2 linked regions of the Homo sapiens genome follow. The gene in region 2 interacts genetically with the main gene of each other region. Each region holds a gene or a part of one and is shown on either strand. Other genes may lie near its edges.

Region 1 (3,500 bases), on a different chromosome or scaffold from region 2:
CTCTTTTTCCTTTCATTTTCTCCTAATTCTACAACTTGTTTGGTATGTGGTCTGCCTTTCAAGGTATGGTAGGTGACAGTTTGACTTAATGTTTTAGTCACTGCATAATAATTCCAGCCTGCAACATCGGGATTTTTAATATCTACCCTTTTACCTCTTCCATTAAGCTAGTGCAGCATTTTTGGTTTCATTATTTCAGTACCCCTCTTTTGATCCCTGTTATTTTATTGATCAGTGTTCTTAGTTTAAGGCAACAATCCATTTTTATAGTTTAAGCAGAGAGGATGTGGAAAAATCATGATAATAGGGAGATGAAGAAATGGATTCCGGGTTGAACTTTCCAGAACAAATCAAAACACATAGCACAAACGGGCCATCAAAGGAGTATCTTAATCTCCTTTGATCAGGAAGCAATAGAATTAAAAAGTGATTGTTAACAAATTACTGGTCCCAGAATTAGCCTGTGCTGTTACAACCTGCATAAGTAAAAAATGAATTCCCCTGTACCCTCATTTTTCTGTGTAACTAACATATTAGGTTGGTATGGCTAAGAAACTTTCTTTAAAAAAATTGATTGGCTTGTAAGGGTCAGTCTGCAAAGTTTGAATTTTAAAATAAGCTTGTTACTTGTCAACCTAAATAACAAACAGAGGCTCTCTAAAAGAAAATGATGTTTGGGAATAGAGCATTGCAGTGGGAATGCCATAGTAAACTTGTGCATATTCAGGGAGGTAAGGAAGACAGAGGTTTTTGAAGACGAAAATGAGGATGACATAATTGTTTTGAAATAATTATCCTTGGCTCCAAAGATTAATAACAAAAGTGACGCCAGTCGGAGGTTGGGCAGGCAGTTGTTGGGCAGATGTCCTTGCAGAAGTATTTTTTTGTGTAAGGTTGCAGTGGGCTTTGTGCAAGGTTATGGTTTTCATAGTCATTTTCATTATCAGGTGTATAAGCATGAGAACCCTCTCTTCATGGCTTTCCCTAGCTCTGTTTGAGTCTGACAACTTTGACACATTTATATAAGAAGGTTGTTGTGAAGAGTGAATTGATTTGTTTTTCTTGCTGTCCCACTAAGTTTGTAACATACTTGTTCATTGCTTCAGACTACTTAACTCTGCTCTAGAAGAAAGGTAGCTCATACTGAGGATTCTAGAGTTATAGAGTTAAATTTTTTTAAGACCTCCCCCCCAACCTTTTTTTTTTTTTTTTTTTGAGACTCTGTCGCCCAGACTGGAGTACAGTGGTGCAGTTTCATTTCACTGCAGTCTCTGCCTCCCGGGTTCAAGTGACTCTCCTGCCTCAGCCTCCCAAATAGCTGGGACTACAGGTGTGTCACCACGCCCAGCTAATTTTTATATTTTTAGTAGAGATGGGGTTTCACTGTGTTGGCCAGACTGGTCTTGAACTCCTGACCTCAAGTCATCCACCTGCCTTGGCCTCCCAGAGTGTTGGGATTACAGGCGTGAGCCACTGCACCTGGCCGTTTTTAGCCCTTTTTTAAAATTTGAAATATTAACACAAAATGCACAAAGCATAAAAACTCAGCTTCTCAATTGCAGAAGCTACGTAACCTCACTCCTCAAGAAATTGAATATTGCCAGTATTCCAGAAGACGCTCAGTCTCATTTTCTTAGTCCGTTTTGTGCTGCTACAGCAGAATACCTGAGACTAGGTAATTTATAAAGAACAGAAATTGATTTCTCACAGTGTTGGAGGCTGGGAAGATTGAGGGACTGGCATCTGGTGAAGGTCTTCTTGCTGCATCATCCTATGGCATTAGGCAGAAGGGCAATGAGAAGTTTGAGAGAGAGAGCAAGAAATGGTCAAACTTGTCCTTTACAGGGAACCCACTCCTGAGATAATGGCTTGAATTCATTGATGAGAGTGGTGCCTCCATGGCCCAAACTCCTCCTGTTAGGTCCCACCTCCCAACACCATCACACTGGGGATGAAATTCCCAATACATGACCTTTGGGGGATACATTCAAACCATAGCAGCAATACACTGCTTTCCAATTACAGCAGCCTGCCTCTAGTGAGCCACCATCTTGGCTTGTGGGGTCAGTTTGCCAGGTCTTAGAGAAATAGTAATGATGTCTGAATTTTAAAATATATTTAGCTTATCAGCACTGCAAGTATGAAAGGATTTTCATTTGCTTTTCTTTATGTCTTTACTACCTAATTATGCATCCCTAAACTAGTTTTATTGCCTAATTTTGAACTATTATATATATGTGGAATTGTACAGTATATATGTAATTGTGCCTTTTTCTGCTCATTTTGTCAGTTTTAAAACAACTGGAATAAAAAAGCTAGACGTTTTATTCCAGTTGTTAAATGTATTCCTAGCTTTTTGTTTTGATTGTTGAATGTTATTCCCTCGTGAATATGCCACAATTTGTCTATTCTGTCCTTGCTGTCATGACAGTGGGATGTTTAGATTTTCTTTCTTCTTTCTTACTTCTATTTCTTAATTACTGTGTCTCAGCCACATAGGTTTTCTTTTTGAACATTTGAAATGTTGATATAAAGTTTTATAATACTGTCATATTAACAGTATCTTTCACATTATCTTTTGGTCTGTAACAATACAAATATGTATTTTTTATGTTTCTAATAATTTGTGTACATGGCATTTTATTTGTTGTTAACAGTACCTCCTTATACCTCCTTAGATGACCTCCCTTGTGCCCTTAATCCTGTATTTCTTTCTTCCATCCTCCCTTCTAGCACCGTTTTTTTTTTTTTTTTTTTTTTTTGAGACGGAGTTGCTTTCGCCCAGGCTGAAGTGCAGTGATGTGATCTTGGCTCACGGCAACCTCCGCTTCCCGGGTTCAAGTGATTCTCCTGCCTCAGCCTCCTGAGTAGCTGGAATTACAGGCCCCCACCACCACACCCAGCGAATTTTTGTATTTGTAGTAGAGACAGGGTTTCGCCATGTTGGTCAGGCTGGTCTCGAACTCCTGACCTCAGGTGATCCGCTTGCCTCGGCCTCCCAGAGTGCTGGGATTACAGGCATGAGCCACTGCACCTGGCCTACTTCTAGTATTAATAACACTGCAACTACTTTTTATATTCCACTAGATTCCAGTTTATATTAAACTACCTTAATGTAAGGTTATTTAGTAAAGCCATACCTGGTTTTTGAATAAATGCTTGAACTCTGTACCAAAATGTAAGAGATCTGTTTTTGCTTCTTGAGATCCTGAATGACTTTTATTTCCCTATTTTTTATAACAGTGAAACCAATCCGTAATCTAAATGGACATTCAATTGGGCAATATAGAATACATGCTGGAAAAACAGTGCCGATTGTGAAAGGAGGGGAGGCAACAAGAATGGAGGTATGTGTGTCACTAACATTTTACTTCCATGGAAGACATTTTTTTCTTCCAAGCAGAAGGTCATGGTAGTTAAATATATGGTTATACTGACCAGAATTAGCTGCTTATCATCCATATTCACCCTGCCAGGAATTGGGCCATTTGAATTTGCAA
Region 2 (3,500 bases):
TCCATGGGCTGTGCTTCCAGATGGAGGGCCCTGCCCGGACTCGACACCCTGGAGGCATCAACACTCAGGAACAAGGCCCTAGAGGAGGGCCACGCACCCGCCCCTGCACCTGCACCTGCAGCAGAGCCCTGGGGCCACCCACTCTCTGCAGGCCCCCTCGTCCCCTCATCCCTCTCAGCCCCAGGTGGCTGTGACCACGAATTACTCGTGAGGCCTCTTGTTCTTGTTTTCCTGCCAACAGGAGCCAGCACCTGGACCAGCACCGAGTCGGCCGGCTCGCCGACAGTGTGACATCCCTATTTATTTTCTTTTTTGTGTGTGAGTCAGGGTCTGGCTCTGCCACCCAGGCTGGAGTGCAGTGGCACCATCACGGCTCACTGCAGCCTCCACCTCCCAGACTCAAGGGATACTCCTGCTTCCGCCTCCCAAGTAGCTGGAAACATAGGTGCATGTCACCATGCCTGGCTCGCCCTGCAATTCTAAGCCCTCTGTGGATGGAGGTGGGATGGGAGCAGATCCACAGCGACCATGAAATGCCCAGCTTGCAACTCACAGTGGAAGGCAGGCACTGCAGGGACAGCTCACGGGGAAGAACTGACACACTTTCTGTGACCAGTGCCCTGGACATGGCCCGGAGTCACATCCTAGGGTGGAGGGGGGCACCAACCTTGCAGGGCTTCAGCACCCCAACCCCAGAGGGCCCTGGAGGAGGGCCGGTATGGGGGGCCCGGGGAGGCCTGAGAGACTGGGCCCAGGGCCGAGACACAGAAGGCTTCGTGGGGGGTGGGGACACAGAAACCGAGCAGAGACAAAGCCGCTTTCTGCTCTGCCCTTGGGAACAGAGGGTTGCAGCCTGGGCACCGTGTCCTTGGATCTGCAGCCTGGTGCGCAGATGGGAGTGCCTCCCACACTGGGCAGGGGAGCTGGAGCCTGGACAGCAGGCCAGGGCCTCATTTCAGCACCACCTTTCTCTGCTCCCATGACGACAGCCAGCGAGGCCGTGCGCAGCCTGGAGATGTGGCAGGGGGCACTTGCCTCCCTGGGCTGGCCCCAGAGCAGGGAGGCCACTCACCACTCCAGGCTGTCCCCCTGGTGCAGCGCACGCAGGGCGGCATCCGGGTTCTGGTCGTGGAGATAGATGGAGGCGGCCATGAGCAGGAAGGTGGTGTTGGTCACGTCCACGCTCCTGCTCATCTCTCGGTCCAGCTCGGCCACGATGCTGTCCCTGCAAGACAGAGATGCTCACGACCCACAGCTGGGGTGGCCTCTGTGGGACCTCAGAGGGTCCCCTTCCTTGGAAGCAGACAGGTCCAGAGAGGGTGAGCCAGGCCCTGGGGGTGCAGAGCAGCAGCAGGCCGAGCATCGAGCTGTCCCGACATGTCCTCCCTCCGTTCCTATGAAGCACCTCTCATGCTGGGCCAGGCAAGGACCCGAGGCCGGGAGATGTGGGGTGGGGCGCTCCAAGGGGACATGAGGAGGCACCGTCAGTCTCACACCAACCTCACCCGCCTTCCTGAGGAGGCTGGTGGGCCCAGCTGGGACTCCTGACCATAACCCATCAACCCTGTGGGCTTCAAGGCCACGTCTTCTAGCAGGAGGTCGGCCTGGGTGCCGAGGGGCCGTGCAGAAGGATGGGAGCCCTGGGGCACCCCCACTGCCAGGGCAGCTGCCCTCAGTCCCTGAGAGCCCAGGGTGCTGGCTGCACCCTGAAGATGGCCAGTGTGCTGCGGGCCAGGGCCAGGCTTGAGCCCAGGCAAGGCTGAGGACCGGCTCAGCTCCGAGGGCACAGGTCACCCATGCCTCCATGTCCCTAACTGGACCCAGACCCTCCATTCCCCATGGCTATTGAGCAGCTAAAAAGAGAAGGCAGGTGAGGGGGCCACCCTAGACCAAAGCTGGTGTTCTTCTGGGTTCAAACGTGGCTCTGTGACCCCGTAAGCATCCACGCGCATCTGGGGGCTGTCTGCCCAGGGCCCGTGTCTGAGGTGTCACTGAGGGCATGGCATGTCTGATACCAACCAGGCTCCACTGAGGGCTCGCCACAGTGCCAGGTCCAACAGACAAGTGACTTCAGGTCTGAGTCTGTTTCCCCGTGCTGAGGGACCATGTTACAGGGATCATGCAGGGGAGGAGCAAGGAGCTCCCAAGACCATCTTACAAAGCTTCCTGAGGCTCCAGCACACAAGGGTGTATAAACACTGCCAGTTGTCGTAGCGTTGGTACTGTAATGTTGTCATCCTAAGGTGTTACAATTACCAATGGGGCCGGGTACTGTGGCTCACACCTGTAACCCCAGCGCTTTGGGAGGCCAAGGCAGGATCGCTTAAGCCCAGGAGTTCAAGACCACCCTGGGCAACATAGTAGGACCCCTTTTTCTACAAAAAAGTAAGAAAGTCAGCTGGGCCTGGTGGCGCCTGTAGTCCCAACTACTTGGGAGGCTGAGGCAGGAGGATGGCTTCAGCCCGGGAGGTTGAAGCTGCGGTGAGCTGTGGTCACACCTCTGCACTCCAGCCTGGGTGACAGAGGGAGACCATCTCAAAAACAAGCAACAGCAACAAAATCAATTACTGGGCGGATCGCTTGAGCCCAGGAGTTTGAGACCAGCCTGGGCAACATGGCAAAACCCCATCTCTCTTTTTTTTTTTTTGAGACGGAGTCTCGCACTTTCGCCCAGGCTGGAGTGCAGTGGTGCGATCTTGGCTCACTGCAAGCTCCGCCTCCCGGGTTCATGCCATTCTCCCGCCTCAGCCTCCCGAGTAGCTGGGACTACAGGCACCCGCCACCATGCCCGGCTAATTTTTTTTGTATTTTTAGTAGAGATGGGGTTTCACGTGTTAGCCAGGATGGTCTCCATCTCCTGACCTCGTGATCCGCCCGCCTCGGCCTCCCAAAGTGCTGGGATTACAGGTGTGAGCCACTGCGCCCGGCCAGGCAAAACCCCATCTCTAAAAAATATACAAATTAGCCAGGCATGGTGATGCGTGCCTGTAGTCCCAGCTATTCGGGAGGCTGAGGTGGGATGATCACTTGAGCCTGGGAGATCAAGGCTGCAGTAAGCCAAGATTGTGCCACTGTATGCCAGGCTGAACGACAGAGCAAGACCGTATCTCAAGAAAACAAAATCAAAACCAAAACCAATTACTAATGGATGCTCCTTGTCCCCGGGGCGTCCTGCCAATGAGGTCGCGGCTGTGCAGCCAGATGAACGGACCACAAGCCCCTGCCTGGACCGCCTGCTCTCCGGGGCTGCTTTTCTGTGATGCTCACAGCAGCTGCTGCTCCTGGGGGACCCAGGGTTCCCTGCCTTCACTCCAGCTGGTGAAGTAAGTGCAGGGTGGGAGAAACAGTGGCCCTGGGAGGTCACCTGTCTCAATGTCCTGGAGCTGCTGTGGCAAAGCACCACAGCCCGGGCAGTTAAGGACAACAGGGATTCGTTCCTCACAGCTCTGGAGGCCGTAAGTCTGAAGTCAAGGTGGCGGCAGGGCTGGCTCCAGCTGGAG

The links. Genes that interact genetically often act in the same process or in processes that back each other up.
Region 1: changes in COPE (region 2) and METAP2 together harm fitness more than expected from each alone (negative genetic interaction), as found in Homo sapiens cells (one large-scale study listed by BioGRID).

What each region holds. Positions count from the first base shown.
Region 1 is NC_000012.12:95,508,652-95,512,151, forward strand, and holds part of METAP2 (methionine aminopeptidase 2), read left to right. Parts: intron 1-3,243; coding exon 3,244-3,347; intron 3,348-3,500. UniProt on the Homo sapiens protein: Cotranslationally removes the N-terminal methionine from nascent proteins. The N-terminal methionine is often cleaved when the second residue in the primary sequence is small and uncharged (Met-Ala-, Cys, Gly, Pro, Ser, Thr, or Val).
Region 2 is NC_000019.10:18,905,888-18,909,387, forward strand, and holds part of COPE (coatomer subunit epsilon), read right to left. Parts: intron 1,226-3,500; coding exon 1,073-1,225; intron 49-1,072; coding exon of another isoform or gene 1-48. UniProt on the Homo sapiens protein: The coatomer is a cytosolic protein complex that binds to dilysine motifs and reversibly associates with Golgi non-clathrin-coated vesicles, which further mediate biosynthetic protein transport from the ER, via the Golgi up to the trans Golgi network.